Homo sapiens: one gene and its partners. The protein of the gene in region 3 purifies or fractionates together with the protein of the main gene of each other region. This does not show direct contact. Each region holds a gene or a part of one and is shown on either strand. Other genes may lie near its edges.

Evidence for each region.
Region 1: the proteins of SINHCAF (region 3) and SUDS3 purify together in Homo sapiens (affinity purification with mass spectrometry; 4 studies listed by BioGRID and IntAct, with this or other methods). This does not show direct contact.
Region 2: the proteins of SINHCAF (region 3) and SIN3A purify together in Homo sapiens (affinity purification with mass spectrometry; 5 studies listed by BioGRID and IntAct, with this or other methods). This does not show direct contact.
Region 4: the proteins of SINHCAF (region 3) and TNRC18 purify together in Homo sapiens (affinity purification with mass spectrometry; 4 studies listed by BioGRID and IntAct, with this or other methods). This does not show direct contact.
Region 5: the proteins of SINHCAF (region 3) and BRMS1L purify together in Homo sapiens (affinity purification with mass spectrometry; 4 studies listed by BioGRID and IntAct, with this or other methods). This does not show direct contact.
Region 6: the proteins of SINHCAF (region 3) and ARID4A purify together in Homo sapiens (affinity purification with mass spectrometry; 4 studies listed by BioGRID and IntAct, with this or other methods). This does not show direct contact.
Region 7: the proteins of SINHCAF (region 3) and SIN3B purify together in Homo sapiens (affinity purification with mass spectrometry; 4 studies listed by BioGRID and IntAct, with this or other methods). This does not show direct contact.

The regions. Positions count from the first base shown.
Region 1 is NC_000012.12:118,404,055-118,407,554, reverse strand, and holds part of SUDS3 (sin3 histone deacetylase corepressor complex component SDS3), read right to left. Parts: intron 1-3,500.
Region 2 is NC_000015.10:75,406,691-75,410,190, reverse strand, and holds part of SIN3A (paired amphipathic helix protein Sin3a), read left to right. Parts: coding exon 1-57; intron 58-199; coding exon 200-355; intron 356-3,046; coding exon 3,047-3,136; intron 3,137-3,500. UniProt on the Homo sapiens protein: Acts as a transcriptional repressor. Corepressor for REST. Interacts with MXI1 to repress MYC responsive genes and antagonize MYC oncogenic activities. Also interacts with MXD1-MAX heterodimers to repress transcription by tethering SIN3A to DNA.
Region 3 is NC_000012.12:31,316,151-31,319,650, forward strand, and holds part of SINHCAF (SIN3-HDAC complex-associated factor), read right to left. Parts: intron 1-3,500. UniProt on the Homo sapiens protein: Subunit of the Sin3 deacetylase complex (Sin3/HDAC), this subunit is important for the repression of genes encoding components of the TGF-beta signaling pathway.
Region 4 is NC_000007.14:5,308,835-5,312,334, reverse strand, and holds part of TNRC18 (trinucleotide repeat-containing gene 18 protein), read left to right. Parts: intron 1-2,966; coding exon 2,967-3,203; intron 3,204-3,385; coding exon 3,386-3,460; intron 3,461-3,500.
Region 5 is NC_000014.9:35,829,338-35,832,837, reverse strand, and holds part of BRMS1L (breast cancer metastasis-suppressor 1-like protein), read right to left. Parts: intron 3,044-3,500; exon of another isoform or gene 2,931-3,043; intron 2,158-2,930; exon of another isoform or gene 2,058-2,157; intron 1,429-2,057; coding exon 1,338-1,428; intron 1-1,337. UniProt on the Homo sapiens protein: Involved in the histone deacetylase (HDAC1)-dependent transcriptional repression activity. When overexpressed in lung cancer cell line that lacks p53/TP53 expression, inhibits cell growth.
Region 6 is NC_000014.9:58,361,055-58,364,554, reverse strand, and holds part of ARID4A (AT-rich interactive domain-containing protein 4A), read right to left. Parts: coding exon of another isoform or gene 3,453-3,500; intron 386-3,452; coding exon 1-385.
Region 7 is NC_000019.10:16,877,624-16,880,849, forward strand, and holds the end of SIN3B (paired amphipathic helix protein Sin3b), read left to right. Parts: coding exon 1-16; intron 17-559; coding exon 560-767; intron 768-873; coding exon 874-1,104; 3' UTR 1,105-2,726; downstream 2,727-3,226.

The DNA of each region.
Region 1 (3,500 bases), about 87 Mb from region 3:
GACTTAAAAGCGAACACCCAGAGTAAACAATGCAAGCTGGTCTATTACCTCTGGGAAGTGGTCTGGAACTTGGGAATGTGGCCACCTCCCAGATCCGCCTCCTTTGGAATCACTGAATGGTGGTGGCCTGAATGTCCACCATTGGTCCCTATTTGCTCCAAAGTAGAGGTGGCCAACATGCTTCCCAAAGCAGCCAACTTCCAAACCAACTGATCACCAGGTCCCTCCTGAACCGCAGTCTCTGAGACCTTCAAGGGATCCTCATGCACTACACGATGTCTTGGGGGAACCATTATCCCTAGATACCAAATCTATTAAATTATTTGAATTCTCTGAAAAGATAAGTCCTTAGATATTAAAGTGTTCAGGGCTCATACCTGTAATCCCAGCACTTTGGGAGGCTGAGGCAGGAGGATCACTTCAGCTCAGGAGTTTGAGGACAGCCTGGGCAACATAGCAAGACCTCATCTCTACTAAAAATCAAAAAAACATTAGCCAGGCATGGTAATGGAGGACTGTAGTCCCAGCTACTCGGGAGGCCAAAGTGGGAAGATCGCTTGAGCCAGGGGGATCAAGGCTCCAGTGAGCTATGATCACACCACTGCATGCCAGCCTGGGGGACAGTGAGACCCTGTCTCAAAAAAATAAAAAATGAAGTGTTCATATGGGGGGGCGGGGGCGGTTAAAGATGAAACCAAGAAGTATGTGACAACCTTAACATAAGAATTTACTTTTTAATTTCTAAAGAAAAATCAAAGGGGGGGGAAGAAATTTAAAAATATGTTTAGATATAAAATGTGCTACGAAGCAACATCAACAGGGTAGTAAAAATGTGCGTTTTTTTTTTAGGCCAATTAACCTGTTTTACAAGCTGCAACTCAGCTGCTGAAAAAAGATATTTAAATAGCCTCAAAGACTAAGCCCCAAATGTCAAACTGACTCTATTACTTTGTAACTAATGGAAATTCTGACCTGGGAATCTCTACAATTAAGTTCTTAAAGCTTTGAACCTCTACTATTAAACCGAACAAAACTAGAAATTACCACTACTGTACTATTTTCGAAAAGCAATTTCTTAAGAAGGTGGACACAAAAGTGGGGCGAGGAGGTAGGAAAATTAATTTAATTTTGTATCCTACTGAGAATCCTGGTATTAACACTTTATTTCCCCAATAAGTGAGTCCACGTTATAGCTACAGAACCTCAAGGAGTCCCAATTCTACTGGTAAATATTCACTGTTTTAAGTCTTTTGTGTCGACCGAAGGCTGAAGGGGAAAATGCTCTTGAGCAAGTGGGTGGCTTCGTTTCTGACTCACAGGCAGCCCCAGATTTAAAACAAGGAGAGAAAAACAGAAGTCCACCCGTACCATCAATTAGTTATTTTCAAATATCAGCTACTTTTTCACAGTATTTTTTGAGAGATCATTAGTCCAAATCAAAATGTGAGGCAAATTTACATAGCATGATATAGAATGCCTTAAAAGCAGTATAAGACCAAGGCAAAGGGAAGATCCTTATCTTTCAAAATGAAAGGGAGCTTGGCAAGTATTCACACCAAGATGCGATGCCTGAATCCCATTTGTTTTGCTGAAGTCATTTAAAACTCAGGAAGACATCTTCTGCCAAAAATACGGCTGCACCAAAATACTCCATACCCTCTGGAAAGAGCATAAAGCAATGTAGCTGACCTCTCAGCCACAGGCCACGTCTGCCAAAGAAAGAAAAACAAAACCTCCAAACTGATACAAAAGCCAAACATGAGCCTGGTGAGATGGGAGAGGCTGGCACTGCACCAGTGAACACCTCAGCCAGTATTCCCAGGAACACTTTTCAATTGTCATTGGGGAAGAGGGAGACCCACCTTCAACAACTGCATTATGATCTCTGACTGCCAAGGCCAAAAATGAAAAGTATACAGAATAGAGAAAAAAAACAACATTCTCAAAGTATATTTAACAAGAGAATAAGCAATTTCAATTTCACTGAAAAAGTAAAATGCATCCAGTGACATTATTTTCTAAATTTCTGCTGTTAATGTAAGAAAGATGGTGAAAATTCCTTCAAAATGCTTAGGAGTTCTAACACATCAAATCTGATCATTTTGTTTACATTAGGAAACACCAGACATTGTGGATCTCTTCTTTAAAAAAACAAGAATTTTATTTTACTGCATTTTCACCCTCAAGACATGTCTCGTAAAGTCTGAGGATTAAGCTTAGAAAGAGGAAGATTCAAAGCAACACAATTACAAAATGAACATCACTGGAAATATCACATGGCTTTAAGACTCATAGATTTGTAAAAATGTTAGTGATAAATCTCATCATTTTCAAAGATGGTTCTTATGTGTGGGCTTGATCTTTAAAGGTTATTTGGTTTTCATTATTAGAAACATTTTTCATCTCATTTTGCCCTTCTCAGTGTTAAGCTGTTAGAGCCTGCCACCTAGTGGCGATGTGTTCTGAGACATAATGTTAAGATATAACACAAACCGACCTTTCTGAAGAATGCCAAAGAACACCAACTCAGAGGGGAAGAAGTCATCAAGATCAGCCTTAGAGATAAAGCCAGCCTCCAGCATCTACTGGGCAATTAACTCACTGCAACTTAATAGGTGGAAATGATTTACTTCGGCCATGACTAGAACCCTAAGCATTTTTGACAAGTACAATGTTATCGGGTAACCAACCTAACACAATGCTGGGTTTTTTTAAGAATTCAAAATAAATAATCATTACCCCAATTTTGGAACTTTTGGTTAGATACTGAAACTCAAAGGGTCATTATATAGCCATTATAAATGATAATGAGACACCTTACAGTAACCCAGAAAAACATTCTCAATATAACCAAACAGAAAGGCAAAGCAAACCGTATGTCCACTATGCCTTAGAATGAATAGACTATGCCTGCATATGGATAAAGAATAAAAAGAAATATATCAGAATGAAAAGACCTGAGAAATGATGGCAGTATCCATTTCATATCTAGCAGAAAGCGTAATACAGAACAGAAGAAATGTTTGTTGAATGAACAAAAGTATGAGCTTTTAAGGTTCTTTCATACTGTTTTGCCATTACCTTTCCAATGAAAAATGCTAGGCGGTCTGAACGTTTCAAAGAGTCTTCAATGTAAACCAGGAATGCAGGACACAGTGGCTCATGCCTGTAATCCCAGCACTTTGGGAGGCCAAGGCAGTAATATCATGTGAGGTCAGGAGTTCGAGACCAACCTGGCCAACATGGCGAAACCTCGTGTCTACTAAAAATACAAAAACTAGCTGGGCATGGTGGCGGGTGCCTGCAATCCCAGCTACTCGGGAGGCTGAGGCAGGAGAATCGCTTGAACCTGGAAGGCGGAGGTTGCAGTGAGCCGAGATTACGCCACTGCACTCCAGCCTGGCGACAGAGCAAGACTCCGTCTCAAAAAACAAAAAACAAACTAGGAATGTTTTAGGATACAGTTCCCCCAAGCAAGTGTCCTTGACCACTTTTGCAGC
Region 2 (3,500 bases), on a different chromosome or scaffold from region 3:
CAGGAAGATTTGTTGTCAGAGTTTGGACAATTCCTACCAGATGCCAACAGCTCCGTGGTATGTTTTTTTAATAAGAATTACACTATTTACTATTATTATCTTAGATGAGTTGGAAAACTGTGCTCAGAAGGGGACTTTTCCTAGATGATATTTGTTTGCTTTGATAAGAGCATTAATCTCATTCATGTGTCTTAATCAGCTTTTAAGCAAAACAACTGCTGAGAAGGTTGATTCTGTGAGAAATGATCATGGAGGCACTGTCAAGAAGCCCCAACTGAACAACAAGCCGCAGAGGCCCAGCCAGAATGGCTGCCAGATCCGCAGACATCCTACAGGAACCACCCCTCCAGTTAAGGTGAGAATGGGCAGCAGCTGCTCATTTTGACACTCACAAGTATTTCTAATGGAGAGGTACTCTAGAGGTGGTCATGTGTTTTGTTGTTGTTGTTTTTTTTTGTTTTTTTGAGACCGAGTCTCGCTCTGTCGCCCAAGCTGGAGTGCAGTGGCACGATCTCGGCTCACTGCAACCTCTGCCTCCCGGGTTCAAGCGATTCTCCTGTCTCGCCCTCCCGAGTAGCTGGGACTACAGGCGCATGCCACCATACCGGGCTGATTTTTTTTTTTTTTTAGTGGAGACGGGGTTTCACCGTGTTAGCCAGGATGGTCTCGATCTCCTGACCTCATGATCTGCCCGCCTCGGCCTCCCAAAGTGCTGGGATTACCTGTGCCCGGCAGTCATGTGTTCTTAAGTGTGTTAACGGTTGGGTCCTAGATATTTGGAGGAAGTTAGTATTGTGTCACAGAAACTCAGTGCAGAGTTTATCTGGCTTTGCAAAAGAGTATTAGAATAACATTGATTGCTTGGATTACTGTACTTTTCTGAGTTCTTTATTATCTCTCCTTTGCAATGAGCTGTCATTTCTTTAATGTTTTGGTTGCTACTAAGAATTTCCAATACTTGAAATTTTTTTCCCTTCTTTTTTTTTTGAGATGGAGTCTTGCTCTGTCGCCCAGGCTGGAGTGCAGTGGTGTGATCTCAGCTCACTACAACCTCTGCCTCCCGGGTTCAAGCAATTATCCTGCCGCAGCCTCCTGAGTAACTGGGACTACAGGCGTGTGCCACCACGCCCAGCTAATTTTTGCATTTTTAGTAGAGATGGGGTTTCGCCATGTTGGCCAGGCTGGTCTTGAACTCCTGACCTCAGGTGATCCACCCACCTCGGCCTCCCAAAGTGCTGGAATTACAGGCGTGAGCCACCGCGCCTGGCCCCTTCTTCTTTGATGCTTTAAATCTGCCTTGTGTTAAGAAAGAACATTCTTGAGCTTGAGAATTATTTCAGAAATAAGTGGTCTCTGAGGTCCTCTTGTGAGTAGAGTGCATGTGTTTTTTGAGATCTCTGGTCTAGAACCCTGTCCTGCTCAAAGTTCTTTGTTGGGTTACCAGATCTTATGTGTATCATCTTAATCTCCAAGGCAGGACCTTTGGGCTGTAGCAGAGGGAAGTCTTAAACTCCTCTTAGTAATCCATTACATGATGTTTTTTGTTATAGTTAACACTGATGGTCTGCCTGCAGAAAACTTAGCTTGCTCCCTTCTTTGATGTAACACAGCTATGATAGGGAGAGGGCTAGTTGTATGTATTGAATGTTTAATTCTTCAGTGAATTTCAAAGCAGTATGTAATATAGAAGAGACAGATATGTCTGCAGAATTAAATAATGACAAAAGTTTGGGAATTTCTAATAGTAAGAGGTGGCTGATGAATAGTGATTGACTGACTACAAGGTCTGACGTACTAGGTGTTACTGACACTTTTGAAGTATCCTTTTCATTAGTGTTTGTCATGGTTTCTTCTTTTGAAATCTTTTGAAATCAAGTTGAACATAATAATGGTTTCTATTTCTTCATTTCAATAAAGAGAATTAGTTATATGGGTAGCAAGAATCAGCTCAGTAGATACACTCCATGCTTGGATTTACGTCCGCCCACTCTTGATTACCTACAGGTGGCAAGAATATAGTGGGGGCTTAAAATTCTCCGCCTACTTTCTCCATAGGCAGTGTAAGCAGAGGCTGCGGCTCTTAAGAAAGTATACTCTGAGATAGCCAAGGTAAATGTGCTACTTCTCACAAAGTTTGTGCATTTCTTCATAGAGAGTAAGTGGTGGATTTTAAAAGTAACTTCTTGCCTGACAGGATTATATCATGGCCTGTTGGTTCCCTTTAGAAGAACAATATTAAATTAGTCTGAGTGGATATTGCTGGCGTGCCTTTTTTTTTTTTTTTTTTTTTTTTTTTTTGAGATGGAGTCTCACTCTGTTGCCCAGGCTGGAGTGCAGTGGCGTGATCTCGGCTCACTGCAGCCTCCACCTCCTGGGTTCAAGCGATTCTTCTGTCTCAGCCTCCTGAGTAGCTGGGACCATAGGCGCACACTACCACGCCCAGCTAATTTTTTTGTATTTTTAGTAGAGACGGGGTTTCACCATGTTGGCCAGGATGGTCTCAATCTCTTGACCTCATGATCTGCCCACCTTGGCCTCCCAAAGTGCTGGGATTACAGGCATGAGTCACCATGCCCAGCAAATTATGCTTTTTAAGTAAATTTTTAATTGAAATATTATTCAGGGTTAAAGATTGATTTCTGTCAATTTGTGAGCTCTTTTTACAAACAGCCTTTTCTCCCTCAGCTGGTAGGAGAACAAAACAGTGGCATTAGATTCTACATGAAGTTACTTTGGGCCCCTAGAAAAAGTAAGGATATTCTAAAAGTTTGTCACAGTAATGTCATGATCATTTCTGGAGAAAATATTTTGGGGGTAGAATGATCTTTGAACCTCTGTTGTAGAAAGAAACTTAATAGGCAAACTGAAATAGAAAATATGAGTTGAAATCTTAGAGGGTATGGAGTGAGTTGGTTAGAGTTCTCTCATTTGTTTCAAATTATTAATCAGCAGTGGTTTCAGTGATGAAACCATTGAATACAGACAAAAATAAAATTCAGAGAAAACCACTCGTTGAATCTCACATGTTTGTATCTTTCTTTTGCAGAAGAAACCCAAACTGCTCAATCTGAAGGATTCTTCTATGGCAGATGCCAGCAAACATGGTGGTGGAACAGAATCGTTATTTTTTGATAAGGTGAGTAATGGATGAGTTAGATTTGATAGTGCCTGTTAATGCCAAAAGAAAATCATCTTATCCCCCTGGAAGGTTTCGTTTTAAAGGTGTCAGGCTAATTAGGACTTTCTGTTTTTTAACATAGTTTCCCAGTTGTGAGTCCTTTGAGTCTGCTAGTACTATTAGCATAGCTAGAAAAATGGTAGCATTGTTTGCTTTGGTTTTATGAAGCAGTTTGGGGCAGAAGACAGATTTTTAGAAAATGTATTATGTTTCTCTTGAAAGATGTTTGGAGCTCCCATTGTAGATATCCAGGTCTGTGTGGCAGGCAGTACCAGTGCCTGTACCAATTTTTGAGGATTTAAGATGACTTGTAATCTTTTTT
Region 3 (3,500 bases):
CAAGAGCAAAAATTCATCTCAAAAATAAAAAATAAAAAAAAAACCATGCCATAATTATAGCTCTGACCAAATAAACTGAATATCCCAAAGTTAAAAAAGATTAAAGGTAATAGCTAAGTCAGCAAAAGCAATTTAAAAAGATAACTAATTATATGGACAATATATATAAACAAAAAAATAAAGTTTTAAAACACAACAATCAATTCTAAACATCTGTTTTGGCTGATTTGTAGGGTTTTCTTCTACTTTAAAGCTGTGGGTTTCATATAAATTTAATGATCTTAATGAATCTAACTTAATGAATCTAACCTTGGTGCTGATGAGTCAAGAAAGGGATGAGATAACCACAATATATCAAAGACACAAAAGGGACAATTCTAATCCCATCTAATGAAATTGGGAAGCCAAAGATCAAGAATAACGTCTAATTTTACATCTAATTAAACACATAAGTTTACTGAATATAATAATATACATAGGAAAGAAAAAGAGTTTCACAGCGATAGTTTATATTAAAGACGCTATTTAAGAAAAGTTTTCTGATAAATAAGATTAAAGATTATCTCTTATAAATCTCAGCAATACTAAATACTTGTTCATTTTAAGCTCCAACCAGGAAACAGAATGAAAAATACTGAAATGCAAATTTTAGAGCTTTAGTACCCTTTTTAATATGGAATAGGAGACAGAGAAAAGGTGATGAATTTAATTCAACTATTTTCTTGTCTTTTTAAATCTTTATAAGGGTGTTAACTCACATTTAAGGATATGGAGAGGGTTCTTATTACGATGAATTTAACATATGTTAAGTTCACCTTAGTTGGCATGCATGCTTTGAAGGACATCATTATTTACTCTAACTTCCCCAATTCCACTTTCTAGATTCCTTCTTCTGGCTTTTTTATATATTCAGAAGTAAAGCGTTTTTTAATATTCAAAAGTACCTTTCAAAACTCAGTAATACCACTGGGTGGACTAGATGGAAGAAAATTGAGAGCAATAGTCAAACGTGGTAAATAACAGTTAACTTCACAACTGTCCAAGTCATCTTGGGAACTGAAATTCTGATATGCACAAATTAGGGGAACAACCTCCCAAATGAAACTATCCTTAAGTTTCCAATAAACCAAAACCCTAGCTTCTAATTATCATTTTTTTCTTTCTAAAAATCAACTGGCCTAAGTCTTTAAAAACAAAAAAAAAACACAAGATAGTTGAAGTGACTTAAATGTCAACGAATTTTCAGACTGGTTAAATTATGGTTGAAACACCACAGCACGCTGTTTCAACCTTTAAAGCAAGTTGAACAGTAGTAATACAGTATAATCTCACAGGATGTTTTTAAAATGAGACTGTAACTACACAAACTTCTTTTTAAATTGGTTCTTAAAAATAGTAAATAGTGGTTGCCTCTGAGGAGTACAAGCATAAAAGAAGCTTACTTTCACTTTACTACCTCCTGCTTTTTTTTTTTTAACCAAGAGCATCACTCTCCAATAACCTTGGTTATCAAGACACACCTTAAGAGTAATCTAAAAAAGCACAGAGAGCTTAAATAAACTTCCTCAAAGACATACAGATGGAGAGATACAAATTAGAAAATACACTCCATGGGAGAGACTACGAAATAGACTGGTAAGATCTAAATACACACAGAGCAGAATGGGAAGGAAACTGCAGACAGGAGACAAGCGAAAGATTTGTAAAGTGGGAAGGAAGCAGCAGTGAACAAAGACAAAAAGAACTAAGCAACCAAAGACAACTTTGAAGTGAAGGAGATGCATTTCTTTAGAGCCAAACTAGAAATCATGATGATGGGAAAGGAAAAGAAATAACACGAAAAAATACTCGCGATCACAAACTGTGGGGATACTTGAGTTCCTGTAATTGGTAATGCCACCACTGACACCATTTTAGTCAATCATATGCTATCATTAATCACATTTAAGTACAGCATCCAGTAAACACTAACAGTGTAACTGGAGCAACACTTTTCACAAACGGTCAACAGGACTAAATGCTTTGTATTCTCCCGCGGCTAGGCTATTTGGCTGCAGTATTCCCCAATAATGAGACATGTTTCATCTGCAGTTAAGGAAACCCATGGAGCAGTAAGACATTATTTCCTCTTACCTGCTTCTAGATAGCAGCCTACATCTCAGCAAAATTCCTGAATTTAGCTAACTTTAAGGGATAAATGTAAATCTGTCTAGAATAAAACTGAGAAAGGGGTAGCAGACCCCACTTGTTTGCCAACAGCCTCTTCAAACATGTGCCCTGTCTCTGAGAAATTATATGGTAAAGCATTTATAACTGTGGCTGTCTATGGAATCCACACTTGGCAGAAGAGCCTAAAACTCATCCTATATAGGAAAGAGGTCAAACTCAGAAATAAACAAGTCTTCAACTGAAATGGCATAGGTTAAAAATAAAATTACAAATTCAAGTCTCTGGGCTTTAGATAGTGTAAAACACCAGGCCCCTCCAATTTTGGTAGAGCGAAAAAAAAAAAAAGAGAAACAAAACTAGGTCTCCCAATTCTAGATTAAGAGGAATTCCAGTACATGAAAAAAAAAACTGAAAGTGTCAGAAAGAATATTTATTTGCTTTTAATGGATGATTATGAGTTAGAAAATATAACCATACTTGGGTCTGCAATGAGTCAATTTGGAGTATATTTCTGCTTCTGTCTTTACAACTAAATAGGAAGTCACTCCTAATTTTATTTGCCCTTCTGTAACATTGGGAAATTCTGTTTATTTCCTTGAATTTATAAGAGTTGCACATTACAGAAAAATAAATGCTATCTATCCCAAGATATATACAACAAATTTAACTGAAGGTAAAATTCTGATTACTAAAGATTTTCTTTTAAGCCCAGGTCTGTGGGAAAAGAGGAACTTAGCCTTTTCAGGGAGACTTTAAGGTCATGAAAAGCCCCATATACTCCTCTATGAAGCTGTTCTCCCATTTTCAAACTTGAGAAAAATGTTAAGAAAATGGATACATGATAGTATACACACCTGATTTGACCCAAACCTCAGGAAAGTTCCTTAACCTCACTAATCCTGTTTCCTCATCTATAAAATAATGACAGGCCGGGCACAGTGGCTCACGCCTGTAATCCCAGCACTATGGGAGGCAGAGGCAGGTGGATCACCTGGTCAGGAGTTCGAGACCAGTCTGGCTAACATGGTGAAACACCGTTTCTACTAAAAATACAAAAAATTAGCCCAGCCTGGTGGCGTGCGCCTGTAATCCCAGCTACTCAGGAGGCTGAGGCAGGAGAATTGCCTGAACCCAGAGGCAGAGGTTGCAGTGAGCCAAGATCGCACCACTGAACTCCAGTTTAGGCAACAAGAGCAAAGCTCAGTCTCAAAATAATAATGACAAATCCAAATCTCCTGAATAGTATCTGTAAAGCATCAACACAACATCAACACAAAGATCGGCACAAGGTATGCACTCAGCTCTGACAATTCTTTTTACTCACCAATCTT
Region 4 (3,500 bases), on a different chromosome or scaffold from region 3:
CAGGCACCTGGGTCTGTCGGACTCCGATGCCCGAGTCCTTCAGAGCAGAGTGGTCCTGCCCTCTGGTCCCGGGACGCAGAGCCACCCTCGTGGAGCCCAGATGAAGGAAACGTGCAAAGATCAGCACAGACCCACAGGCGTCGGCGCCACGTGGAAGGGGCTTTCCAGGCCTCTGGGATTTTTTCCTTTTTCTTTTTTTGAGACTGAGTCTCTCTCTGTTGCCCAGGCTGGAGTGTGGTGGTGTGATCTTGGCTTACTGCACCCTCTGCCTCCCGGGTTCAAGCAATTCTCCTGCGTCAGCCTCCCAAGTAGCTGGGATTACAGGCGCACGCCACCACGCCTGGCTAATTTTTGTATTTTCAGTAGAGATGGGGGTTTCCCCATGTGGGTCAGGATGATCTCAAACTCTCCTGGCCTCAAGTGATCTGCCTGCCTCGGACTCCCAAAGTGCTGGGATTACAGGTGTGAGCCACCACGCCTGGCTTTTTCTTTTCTTTCTTTCTTTTTTTTTTTTTAAGAGACAGGATCTTGCTCCGTCACCCAGGCTGGAGTGCAGCGGTGCCATCGTGGCTCACTGCAGCTTTGAACTTCTGGGCCCAAGCAGTTTTCCCGCCTCAGCCTCCTGAGTAGCTGGGATTACAGACATGTGCCACCATGCTACCCAGCTGATTTTTAAATATTTTTGTAGAGACAGTGTCTCACTGTGTTGCTTGGGCTGGTCTTGAACCCCTGGGCTCAAGTGATCCTCCCGCCTCAGCCTCCCAGAGTGCTGGAATTCCAGGTGCGGGGCCTGACAGCCTGTTGTGTGTGGCATTTGAGTGTTCCCAGCCACGCCCCGGGCTCCTGGCCACTAGTGTGGCAGTCCCAGCAGAAGGTACCTCCTTCCCAGGTTTGCTAGCAAAAGTCCAGATTGAAGCTCCTTGGCCTGGCCAGGATCATGTGCCCACCCCTGAGTGAATCAATATGGCCTGGAAGACAAAGTCCTGGCTGGCCAGGTCGGGGTCCCGTGTGCCCTGCCTGCAGCAGTGGGTTAGCTGTTCAGAAGGAGCCCTTCCAGCCTGCCTGTGGCTGTCTACACACACGCACACACACTTGCACACAGTGCACTCAAAAGCATGGGCACATGCACACACACACGCACATATGTGTGCACATGTACACATGAATGCACATACAGCCACACACAAAAGCAAGTATACACACATGCAGATGTACATGTGAATGCAGGCACGTACATGAACCATGTAAACATGAACATGCACACATATGCAAATACACTACACCCACACAAATGCACACTTGCACACGTACACAAACGTAGGCACATACATGCGTGCACGTGCATCCATGCACGTGCATGCACACGAGTACACGTGCACACACACAAACACGTGCACACACGAACACGTGCACACACATGAACACGTGCACAAATGCACAGATGAACATGTGCACACACAGGCACATATACATGGCAGGACCCAGTGTGAGAAGTGGTGGTTCAGACAGGCTGGCAGGGAGCCCCCAACGTGCTGTAGGTGTGGGGCAGGAGCACCTGCATGTTCCAGAAGGGGTCAGTGGTGTCTCAGGCAGCATTTCCAAAGCTGCTCTAGAATGGAGTTTCAAGTCTCTCTTGCCCAGGTGCAGTGGCTTAAGTCTGTAATCCCAGCACTTTGGGAGGCCCAGGCGGGAGGATCACTTAAGCTTGGGAGGTCAAGGCTGCAGTGAGCTGTGATTGTGCCACTACACTCCAACCTGGGCAATAGTGTGAGACCTTGTCTTGAAAAAAATAATAGTTTTAGCCGGGCGCAGTGGCTCACACCTGTAATCCCAGCACTCTGGGAGGCCCAGGCAGGAGGATCACTTGAGGTCAGGAGTTCGAGACCACCCTGCCAACATGGTGAAACCCCGTCTCTACTAAAAATACACACACAAAAATTAGCCAGGCGTGGTGGTGCACGCCTGTAATCCCATCTACTTGGGAGGCTGAGGCAGGAGAACTGCTTGAACCTGGGAGGCAGAGGCTACAGTGAGCCAAGATCGTGCCACTGCACTCCAGCCTGGGCGATAGAGTGAGACTTCATCTCAAAAAGAATAATAATAATAATAACTATTTTTTAAAAGATAAAAAAGGCCAGGTGTGGTAGCTCACGCCTGTAATCCCAGCTCTTTGGGTGGCTTATGTGGGAGGATCACTTGAGGCCAAAAGTTCAAGACCATCTTGGGCAACATAGTGAGACCCCCATCTCTACAAAAATAAAAATATTAGCCGTGGATTCCTGTAATCCCATCAACTCAGGCGGCCGAGGGAGGAGGATGGCTTGAGCCCAGGAGATCGAGGCTGCAGTGAGCTATGATATTACCACTGCAGTCCTGCCTGGGTGACAGAGCAAGACCCTTTCTCTGAAAAAAGTAATTTTCAAAAGAAAAATAAGGCCAGGTGCAGTGGCTGACACTGCGATCCTAGTGCTTTGGGAGGCAAAGGTGGGAGGGTGGTTTGAGGCCAAAAGTCTGAGACCATCCTGGGCAACATAGTGAGACCTTGTTCTCTACAAAAATAATCAAAATTAGCCGGGCGTGGTGTGCGCCTGTATTCTCAGCTCCTCAGAGGCTGAGGTGGGAGAGGATTTCTTGAGTCTAGGAGTTCGTGGCTGCAGTGAGTCATGATGGCGCCACTGCGCTCCAGCCTGGGCAACAGAGGGAGACCCTGTCTCAAAAATAAGAAGTCTTGTAGCGGCAGAATGCTTAGATCAAGGGAAGCGCCTCTTGGAGACCCAGCATGTCAAAGAGATGGAAGAGGGGCTTCCCCACTTGAAGCGAGACAAGGAGCTTCCTCATCTCCCCACAGTTGGATAGGGGTTGATTTAGAGGCCGAGGGCCCAGAGTCCCAAGCGGCAGAGCCTGCCAGGCGGCGGGCTCCTTGGGGCTGGGCCAGGGCCTGTGCCGTGACACACGTGTCCTTGCAGCGGCGTGGCATGAAGGGCAAGGCCCGCAAGCTCTTCTACAAGGCCATCGTGCGCGGCAAGGAGATGATCCGTATCGGGGACTGTGCCGTGTTCCTCTCTGCCGGCCGCCCCAACCTGCCCTACATCGGCCGCATCCAGAGCATGTGGGAGTCGTGGGGCAACAACATGGTGGTCCGCGTCAAGTGGTTCTACCACCCCGAGGAGACCAGCCCGGGCAAGCAGTTCCACCAGGGCCAGGTGAGCCTGCGGCCCGGCTGCGGCCCCCAGTCCTAGGCGGTGTAGGGCAGACCTGAGGGCGAGGCGTTCTGGGTGCTGGAGCATCAGCAGCCCTGCCCAGTGGGTCAGCCCTGTCCTGGGGCCTGGGGTCGGGTGCAGCAGCCCCCGGGCTCACCCAAGCCCCTCCTCTCTCCCCCACACAGCACTGGGACCAGAAGTCCAGCCGCAGCCTCCCGGCGGCCCTGCGGGTCTCCAGCCAGAGGAAGGACTTCATGGAGGTAGGTGGTGGTGGTGGTGGTGGTGGGCGGGTTGGGGATG
Region 5 (3,500 bases), on a different chromosome or scaffold from region 3:
AGAACTCAGTTACATTATTTGACTTTATGCACATAATCACAAAACAGGTATCTATCTATCACTCTTTAATGGTCAATTCCCAATACAAAAAAATAAAATTGAAATAACTACTTTTTGGCACTATTAATGTTTGTTTTTGTTTTAACCACAGAACAATAAAACCAATTCTAAGAGAAAAGGTCATTTAAACACTGAGTTTAAAAGAAACAAAGAAATCATTTTGAATAGACATTACCAGTTGTCAAAATAAATAATTACTTGGCTTCTCTCTACCGTTCCTGAAAAGGAGTCAGTATTACTGTATTCAGCCTACTTAATTTTTTTTTTTTTTTGAGACGGAGTCTCGCTCCGTCACCCAGGCTGGAGTGCAGTGGCGCAATCTCGCTCACTTCAAGCTCCGCCTCCTGGGTTCACGCCATTCTCCTGCCTCAGCCTCCCGAGTAGCTGGGACTACAGGCGCCCGGCTAATTTTTTTTTTTTTTTTTTTTGTATTTTTTAGTAGAGACGGGGTTTCACCGTGTTAGCCAGGATGGTCTCGATCTCCTGACCACGTGATCCACCCGCCTCAGCCTCCCAAAATGCTGGGATTACAGGCGTAAGCCACCGTGCCCGGCCCAGCCTACTTAATTTTTTAAAAGAGCAAAGAGGAAGTAGACTAATGAAGGTAAAACCAATGTTTTTATGACCTGACATACTAAGTTTGTCTCAACTACAAATGAAGAAGCCATAACAAAATTAGTTGCTCAATGAACAAGGAACTCAAAAATGGGGCAGGAGGTCCCTGTTACTCCTATTTATAAGGCCACTTACAAATACTCTAATTTGCCAGCTGTCACCAATACCTTTAGAGTATGATACAACTCAGTGTTTATTTTTGGCAATAATCCTGCAGGACAGAACTAATTTTTTTTTTTTTTAAGACAGTGTCTTACTCTGTCGCCCAGGCTGCAGTGCAATGGCACGAGCACAGCTCACTTGCAGCCTTGACCTCCTGGGCTCAATTGATCCACCTGCCTTAACCTCCCAAGTAGCTGGGACCACAGGCACGTACCACCACATCCAGCTAATTTTTAAATATTTTATGGAGACCAGGTCTTCCGATGTTGCCCAGGCTGGTCTCCAACTCCTGGGTTCAAGCCCACAAAAAAACCCTGCCTCCAAACCCTCAGTTTAGTTAATGAGGTCTTTAGTAGACAAACAATAGTTGAAGCCTCTTTCAAATTGGTCTGTCGCATAAAATACAAAACAGCTGAGACTGAATCTAGTTGCTCTTGTGCTAGTATACAAGTGACAAGGTTGAGATTCAGTGACAATGGCCTTCTAAAGTCACTACTTACTGATCTTTGAGATCGGTAAACTGTTTTTCAAGATTGGACATTTCATCCAAACATTCCATTCTTCTTCTTTCACAGTCTTCATCATCCATTTCTGTTAATAAAAAGGCAAATATAAAAGATAAACTTAATTTTCAAATTTATCTGAACATCTCAAATATATCTGAACGTAATTCAAATAGGAAGAAAAACTGTAATATGAAGAGAAGACCTATATTAAGCCTTAAAAGAAAATAAACAAGATTTATCAAAAATAATAATTTCTGCTGGGCGTAGTGGCTCATGCCTCTAATTCCAGCAGTTTGGAAGGCCAAGTCAGGAGGACAGATTGAGCCCAGGACTTCAAGATCAGCCTGGGCAACAGAGGAAGACCCCATCTCTACAAAATATAAAAATATTAGCTGGGCACGGTACCATGAGCCTGTAGTCTCACCTACCAGGAGGCTGAGGCAGGAGGATCGCCTGAGCCCAGGAGTTGGAGGCTGCAGTAAGCCATGATTGTGACACTGCACTCCACCCTGGGTGACAGAGTGACCTAGTCTAAAAAAAAAAAAAAAAAAAATCCACTATAGATTTAATCTAAAATACAGATGAGTATATAAAACTATACTGGTCTCTAGACCCTCTTACTTTTATTCATTTTTAAATCACTTTAAAGGACTGACTATAAGCTATAACTATAAAGTAATTAGCCCACATTTGGTTTGTTTTCCACCAACTCACCAGAATGTAGCACCAAAATGACTGTGTCCTTTAAAGGCTAACATTGCTCAAAAACATTTTTGGGATTCTTCTTTCAGAACTGCTCACATGGCTGATTTGCCTGTCACATAAAAAAAGAAAAGTGGCCGGGTGTGGTGGCTCATGCCTGTAATCCCAGCACTTTGGGAGGCTGAGGCTGGAGGATTGCTCGAGCTCAAGCGTTCAAGACCAGCCTGGGCAACATGGTGAAACCCCATCTCTAATAAAAATACAAAAATTAGCCAGACATAGTGGTGGATGCCTGTAGTCCCAACTGCTCGAGAGACCGAAGTGGGAGGATCGTTTGAACTTGATAGGCAGAGGTTGCAGTGAGCCAAGATTGCGCCAGCCTGGGCAACAGAGATCCTGTCTCAAAAATAAAAAGTGAAAGAAAGGCCAGGCATGGTGGCTCACTCCTGTAATCCCAGCACTTTGGGAGGCTGAGGCAGGCGGATCACCTGAGGTCAGGAGTTCGAGACCAGCCTGACCAACATGGAGAAAACCCATCTCTACTAAAAATACAAAATTAGCTGGGCGTGGTGGCACATGCCTGTAATCCCAGCTACCTGGGAGGTTGAGGCAGGAGAATCGCTTGAACCCAGGAGGTGGAGGTTGTGGTGAGCCAAGATCGTGCCATTGCACTCTAGCCTGGGCAACAAGAGCGAAACTCCATCTCAAAAAAAGGAAAAAAAAAGAAAAAGAAAAAGGAAAACTAATCTTATTATGTTTACCACAGGCTCTCCTGGTCTGCCATTCCTACGTTCCCTTATTCCGTCTACCCATATTACTATCAGTGAGAAAGAGGCAAATGAGGAGGAAAATACAAACTTTTTAAGGAAAGCAACTGTTAATTACCAGGTCTGTCCTATAGTCCACATTTTCTATGTTCATATCACATATATTCATTCATCAAAATAACTGAAGCACAAAATGATCTGCATCTTGATCTTCATCAAATAAAAGTCAAACTATGAGAAAGAGTTAAATCATGTTCAATTATTTTTATATAACATGGAAGGCTGACTCATTTTTTTCTCATTTTCTAAAACAGATTAAAAATACTTCTGGCTTTTGATTGCTTACTTCTTGGCTACTCAAAACTTGGTCCCTCAAGATGACTCACTATCCAAGTTCTCTGGATAGTAGAGGCTTTTCCGTAGCCTTAGAATTTGCTCAGCACCAACATTTGAGAAGAAAACACTGTGAAAGTTTAACATGAAAGACATATGGTAGAACAGAGATGCTTTAACAGAAGCAAACTGCAAAATTTATTTAAACAATTTCTTTGCACTTAAAATTTTGACTTGTAGTTCAAATTATTATCACATTCTTCAAAAATTAAGTTGTTCATTATTTTTTGGGATGGAATTTTTAAAAGTTAAAAATCACAAGAGTCAACATAAAAATTATAGGGGGAGAATTTTA
Region 6 (3,500 bases), on a different chromosome or scaffold from region 3:
TGAGGTTCACTTCCTGCTTCATTCTGGCCAAATGATGAAATCTTTATAATTTCTAAAGAAAGATCTTTTGTCTTGCTTCGTCTTCCCTTTCCTTTTGGAGATTTTTCGGCTTCTTTCTTAACTTCTTCTGTTTTTTCCATTTTGTTCCCAAAAATCTGTACTATTTGTTCATTCTCTCCAACTTCTAACTTCAGGGTTTCTAAAGGCTGCATTTGAGTCCTATCATTTTCTTTTAATATATGTGCAGAAATCTTTGGATTTTCTTCATCTAGCTTATCATCATTCAAATTTTCATTTTTTTCTAGTTCATCTTTAAGAGAAAGTTCTTCATTTATTAAATTCTTTTCTAAAGCATCTTCTGTTTCACTATCAGATGAACAAGAGTCTGTAAGAGGAAATATTATTATATTATACAGGTTTTTATATTACCAATGTAATTTTACAATAAAAATCTTACCAAAAATAACAATAAAAATCTTTAATCATGTACCTCTGAATACCTCCCTGTAGAAATTTCTGAAATAAAACAAATCATAACATTTGTGCCAAGAATTTGAGGGGGAGGGGAAACTAAGCTCCAAGCAAAAATATATTACGTTGCATATTACTAACTCAAATCTATATGAAAAGCTATTTTGCAACATTCCCCAGTATCATATTTAGGTACAATAGTCCTTAAAAAAGATCAAAAGATTAGTACCTAGACATCCTAGACATGAAGTTAATTTGTTAAGTGGTTTGAGATAGTATCTAGGAAGGACAGATGATGGGCATTTTGTACCCTAAGAAAGGAATATGACATTCTACTTAAAATAACTGTGGAAAGAAAAGGTTTTTTCTTTTCTTTTCTTTTTTTTTTGAGACATAGTCTCACTTGGTTGCCCAGGCTAGAGTGCAGTGGCGTGATCTCAGCTCACTGCAAGCTCCGCCTCCTGGATTCAAGCATTTCTCCTGCCTCAGCCTCCTGAGGAGCTGGGATAGGCGCAGGCCACCACGCCCGGCTAATTTTTGTATTTTAGTAGAGATGGGGTTTTGCTATGTTGGCCAGGCTGGTCTCAAACTCCTGACCTCAAGTGATCCGCCCACCTCAGCCTCCCAAAGTGCTGGGATTATAGGCATGAGCCACCGTGCCCAGCAAGAAAAGTTTTTAAAATGGGCAATTGGAATCCTCAAAACTTTAAATATTCTTAACAGACAAGAAAGTACAGGAAACAAAAATTGTTCCCTGTAAGGGAACTTGTAAAATAGTAAAGTAGGGTTCTAAGACTGTATAGGATCTAAAAAATATAAAAATATTGTCCACATGGTGCTCAAATCCTCAAGAAGTTCAAAACTGCAAACATGAATTTTTTAGTGAAAAGGTGTATACAGTTTTATTTTGTGGTTTTATCATAAACAGAATGTAGAATTCATTTTCATGTTTTAAAAAATCCCTTTCAGTGGTAGTTTAATAAGGCTGGTATGTAGTTGTATAGACTGGACACTGCACACAGGTATGCCTTCTAAGAGGGTACCTTTCACTTTGTGGACATCTTAAACATTTGTCAGCAGATGGCAGTAAAGAGGAAGGATGTCCTTTTATAATTTGCACACAAGCACCATATGGACTAATAGCAAACATGTAGTTCAGTATAGCTTTTTTCTTGAAAGAAGAGAAATTTTTATATAAGACAACCATTTAAAATTTCTTTTTTGGTGGCCGGGCACAGTGGCTCACACCTGTAATTCCAGCACTTCAGGACGCTGAGGCGGGTACATCACTTGAGGTCAAGAGTGCGAGACCAGCGTGGCTAACATAGTAAAACCCTATTGCTGCTAAAAATACAAAAATTAGCCAGGTATGGTGGTGCACACCTGTGGTCCCAGCTACTTGGGAGACTGAGGTGGGAAAACTGCTTGAACCCAGGAGGTGGAGGTTGCAGGGAGCTGAGATTGCGCCACTATACTCCAGCCTGGGCAACAGAGTGAGGTGGGGTCTTGCTCTGCTACCCAGGCTGGAGTGCAGTGATGTGATTACACTTGCTGCAGCCTTGACCTCCCAGACTCAAGCAATCCTCCCACCTCAGCCTCCTGAGTAGCTGGGACCACAGGTGCACACCACCATGCCTGGCTAATTTTTAAATTTTTTTGTAAAGATGGGGTCTCACTATGTTGCCCTGGCTGGTCTGGAACTCCTGGGCTCAAGTGATCCTTTTGCCTCAGCCTCCCAAGGTGCTGGGATTACAGGCATGAACCACTGCACTCAGCCTAAAATTTCTTAATTACATTTAAAAGTATACAGAGGTAGAAAAGTGGGGGAAACGAGTACAAGCAGAATAAAATATGTTCACCTATACTCATTATAAAACATGCCTGCACCACAGTAGTCTGTGTTCTCTTAGAACCACATGGTCTCAGCTTTGCTGAAAGATCCCAGATGAACAGCATTGAATTTATAGGATACACTGGTACAGGCTTTGAGGGAAAGTGTAGCACACATTAGGATGCATGGATTGTCAATTCACCTTCTATTAAAATATATTATTTTCAAGATACTTATGAGAAAAAGTATTCCTAAATGAAAACATCACTAAATTTTAGATAAAAATGATACAGCAAAATATTTTCTTCAAATCAAATTTTATAGTTTAAATCATATGAGATTAAAATCCTAGGTGATTTACAGGTTGAACACCCCTAGTCCAAAAACCTGAAATCCAAAATGCTGCAAATTCCACAACTTTTTGGGCACCAACATGACACCACAAGTAAAAAATTCCAGACCTGACCTCATGGGACACATTGCATCCAAACACAGGTGCACAACAGTTTCTTCAGCAACCCCAAGCTAGTGTACGGGTAACCTTTTAATGAAAACACAGCATCGTAGGTGGAGACTGAAAGCCTGCTGTTTGTTTTTGCTGTTGTTTAGCAGCTGATACAGGTATTCTAGTGATGCTACCTTGCTGCTTAGTTTCCCCACACAATTTTTCCACTGTATTAATTGTAAGTCATATGTTTTACTGTTATGTAATTATGTGTGAATAAGTGTAAGAAAATTGCTTATCAGTAGCTGGCATATAAATTCAGAGTCAAGAATAACAGTGATGCCAAACAATCACAGACTGTTCACATGGGTGGCTGAGACAATTATACCTGTGATTTCTGATGGTTCAAATAACACAATCTTTATTTCATGAACAAAACTATTAAAAATATGGTATAAAATTACTTTCAGGCTATGTGTATAAGAAACACTAATTTTCATGTTTAGACTTGGGTCCTATCCCTAGGATATCTCATTATGTATATGCAATATTAAAAAAAAAAAATCAAAAACCAAAAACACTTCTAGTCCCAAGCATTTTGGGCAAGGGATACTCAACCTGTACTGTGAATATTTCACACAATGGAAGTTTTATTATTTATGTTATTGATTTTTTTTAAAGTCAGCCATCCTCAAAATTGAGCACCTTCCATTCCATTTGACAGAGGTGAGCTGTCTGGTATATTGCTGCGAG
Region 7 (3,226 bases), on a different chromosome or scaffold from region 3:
CTGTGTTCCTGCAGAGGTAAGAGGCCCTGAGATGCATGCTCTGTTCCTTCCTTCCTGGGCCCAGGGAGTGTCCCCTTTGTCCTGACGGGGGCTGGACCATGGCACACTGTCTGGGAGCACTTAGTAGGTGCCTGCTGTGTGCTGAGGCAGGCCCTGCCCTTTTGAGGCTTGTGGTTTGCAGTGGAGGGATTAGTAACCCCAGGACGGTGAGGTGTAGGAGGGGCAAGGCCAACCCCACGATGCGTCAGTGGGTGAAGAGTGAATGCCCGGACTGGAGGGAGACGCTGCCAGAGCTGGTGGGGCCAGGCCAGAGGCGGGTGGCTGTGGCAGGACCCTGGACCACCTCAGGTCGGGCTAGGATGGCACCTATGGGACCAGTGGGGGCTGCTGGTGGGTGTTCAGATCTGGGGGCATTTCTTGTTGCTTCCATTTGCTTTCTGTGGACCCCTGGGAGGTAGCACATCTTCTGATGGTCCCAGGCCTGGGGGTTTCCCAGCCTGCAAATCCTCCTCCCACAATGCCGAGAGCCAGAGTCCATTCCACCTCCTTTCGCCCCCAGGAACCTCAAGAAGTTCCGCCGCCGGTGGCAGAGCGAGCAGGCGCGGGCCCTGCGCGGTGAGGCCAGGAGCTCCTGGAAGCGGCTGGTGGGCGTGGAGAGCGCCTGCGACGTGGACTGCCGCTTCAAGCTCAGCACTCACAAGATGGTGTTCATCGTGAACTCCGAGGACTACATGTACCGTCGCGGGACCCTCTGCCGGGCCAAGCAGGTGCCAGGGGAGGCCTGGGCTGCCCCGACATGCCCCTCCTCACCCCAAGTCCTGGGGCCCTGGGGGTCCAGCCCTCAGCTGCCCTGACACCCGGCCTCTTCAACAGGTGCAGCCCCTGGTCCTGCTCCGCCACCACCAGCACTTTGAGGAGTGGCACAGCCGCTGGCTGGAGGACAATGTGACGGTGGAGGCGGCTAGCCTGGTGCAGGACTGGCTGATGGGTGAGGAGGACGAGGACATGGTACCCTGCAAGACGCTGTGTGAGACAGTGCACGTGCACGGCCTGCCCGTGACCCGCTACCGCGTGCAGTACAGCCGCCGCCCGGCCTCGCCCTGACCCGCCCTCATGGGCACCGGGCAGGCGCCTCACAGAGCACAGACGTGCCCTCGGCCTTGGTCGTGTCGGGGCCGTTTTCTTGAACGACGTGAGAGGCATCTCCCAGCCCCTCTGCTGCCGGACAGCGCACTCCAGGGCAGGACGCCGCCCCCGTGGCTCCCGGTCTCCTGTGGGCCTGCTGTGTGCCAAACCTGAGCTACCTGCACCCGAGCCCTGGGGCTCAGCCCCACCACAGGGGCGGGTGGACGTGCTGGCCGAGGAACAAGCAATCATGTTTGCGTCCCCGTCCGTCACATGTGCCAAATCCCTGGCAGGCAGATGGCTCCTGCCCCATATTCTTGCCGTGTCTTGGAAAAGTCACAGGTGACAGCCCTCCTGAGGCCCACACTTTGGAGGGGGTCCATGTCCAAGAGACCCTGACAAGGAAGGAGTTGAGCCCTGGGTAGGCTTGCTTGAAAAGTGAGTCCTTCCAGAATATTCTCAGAGCTGCCAGAAACATCATCTGAGGGTTTGGGCATCAGCTCTGCCTGGCTGGTGTTCAGGCCCTCAGTCACTTTGGAAGTGAGAAGAACCCTTCAGCCAAACCTTTGGGATCCCATTTTGAAGTCCAGAGCTGGAGCAGGCGGGCAGTGCCCTGGGAGACCCCGCTCTGGATAAGACACCCAACCCCAACTCCAGCAGCTGGACTCTGGGCCCACAAGGGGAGGGACCCCAGCCAGTATTCCCTCAGAGCCGGCACGACCCTGCTGTGGGGCGGCGGGCCCAGTCGTGTTCCTGCAGTGGGCACCCTAGGCGTATGTGTATACACGCACAGATATTTATTCCTTTCGCTTTTAGTGGTTGTTATTTCTGTAGCAGCCAAGTCCTGCGGCTCCCTGGGGCTGAGATCTCCCTTTGTGGAACTCCGAGAGCCGCCCTGACAGTCCCAGCCGCCACCCAAGGAGCCCCATCCGCCCACCCACCCTGGGACCCACGCGGCCACTCCAGGGATCATTGTTGTCCTTTTGTGAGGGGCTGAGGCGACTGTCCCATGGAGGCATCCAAGGCTTTCTGTGCCAAGAATCCCAAGTGACTGGGGCTGGGGACCACTTCTCCAGGCCTCTCTCCCCGACCATGAGAGCCCCTGGCCCTGGCCCCTGCACACCAGTAGGCCCAGAATAACCGCCACCCTTGCCATCCTGCAACAGCTGGACTCAAGTTTCCAGGAAGTGGAGATGTGTTTCTAGAAGTTTCCTGTGGAACCTGGAGGCTCCTGATGCCTTTGACTCCAGGCTGGGCGATTCCGATGCTGACCCGTCCTCCTGGGCTCCCCACCCCCGCTCCCCAAGTGTCACACAGGCACTTTGTACACATCCTGGTTTTCTAAGAAGGGAACTTGCCATCAAGATTCCTGTACCAGGCCCACGGCCGTCTCGGGCAGAGCCACCTGGGCCCCGGGTGCAGCCGGAGACCCCGCCGAGCCCCTCCTCCCAGTATTCCCATCCCCGCATGCTTCTAGGGAGCGCCTCTTTTCCGTTCTTGAGGAATTTCTGTTCTGGGGCTTGTCCTTCCTTTGCAGCTGTTTTGAATGTAGTTTTCCTTTTCTATTTATTTGCACATTAAAGTTAATAATTGAATATTGACATCAAGCCGTGAGGGTGTGTTGGTCTTCCTGTGAGAGCCTTGCTGACTTCCTGCCACCAGGTCAGTGGGCTGGACCCATGAGAGCAAGGGGTGGCTGGGTGTGCCTACCTGGGACCAGGGGAGTCGAAGCCCCTCCTTGAACCAAGATCATCTCACACCCTGCACCTGCCCCGCCACGACATGGGAGTGTCTTCTAGAATATTCTTTCCCCATTCCATTTGCACATTTAGTGGGAATTAGAAGCGTCTCCTTCGCCCGAGTGTCTCTCATGCAGAACCCAATTTAAAGATCATGGTGTTTGCTCTAAGGTGTTTGTTCTAAGCTTCCCATGCCCAACCTATCCGTCCAGGCCCATGCCTGCCCACCCACCCCACACGACCACCCTCTGTACTCCTTGGGGCCCCACCCACTTCCTGGCTTTCACCATCATTTTCTCCTCATCTCCTGCCCCCTGTCTGCATCCCAAGCTCCACACCTGCTTCCGGGTAGCAGAAGCCCC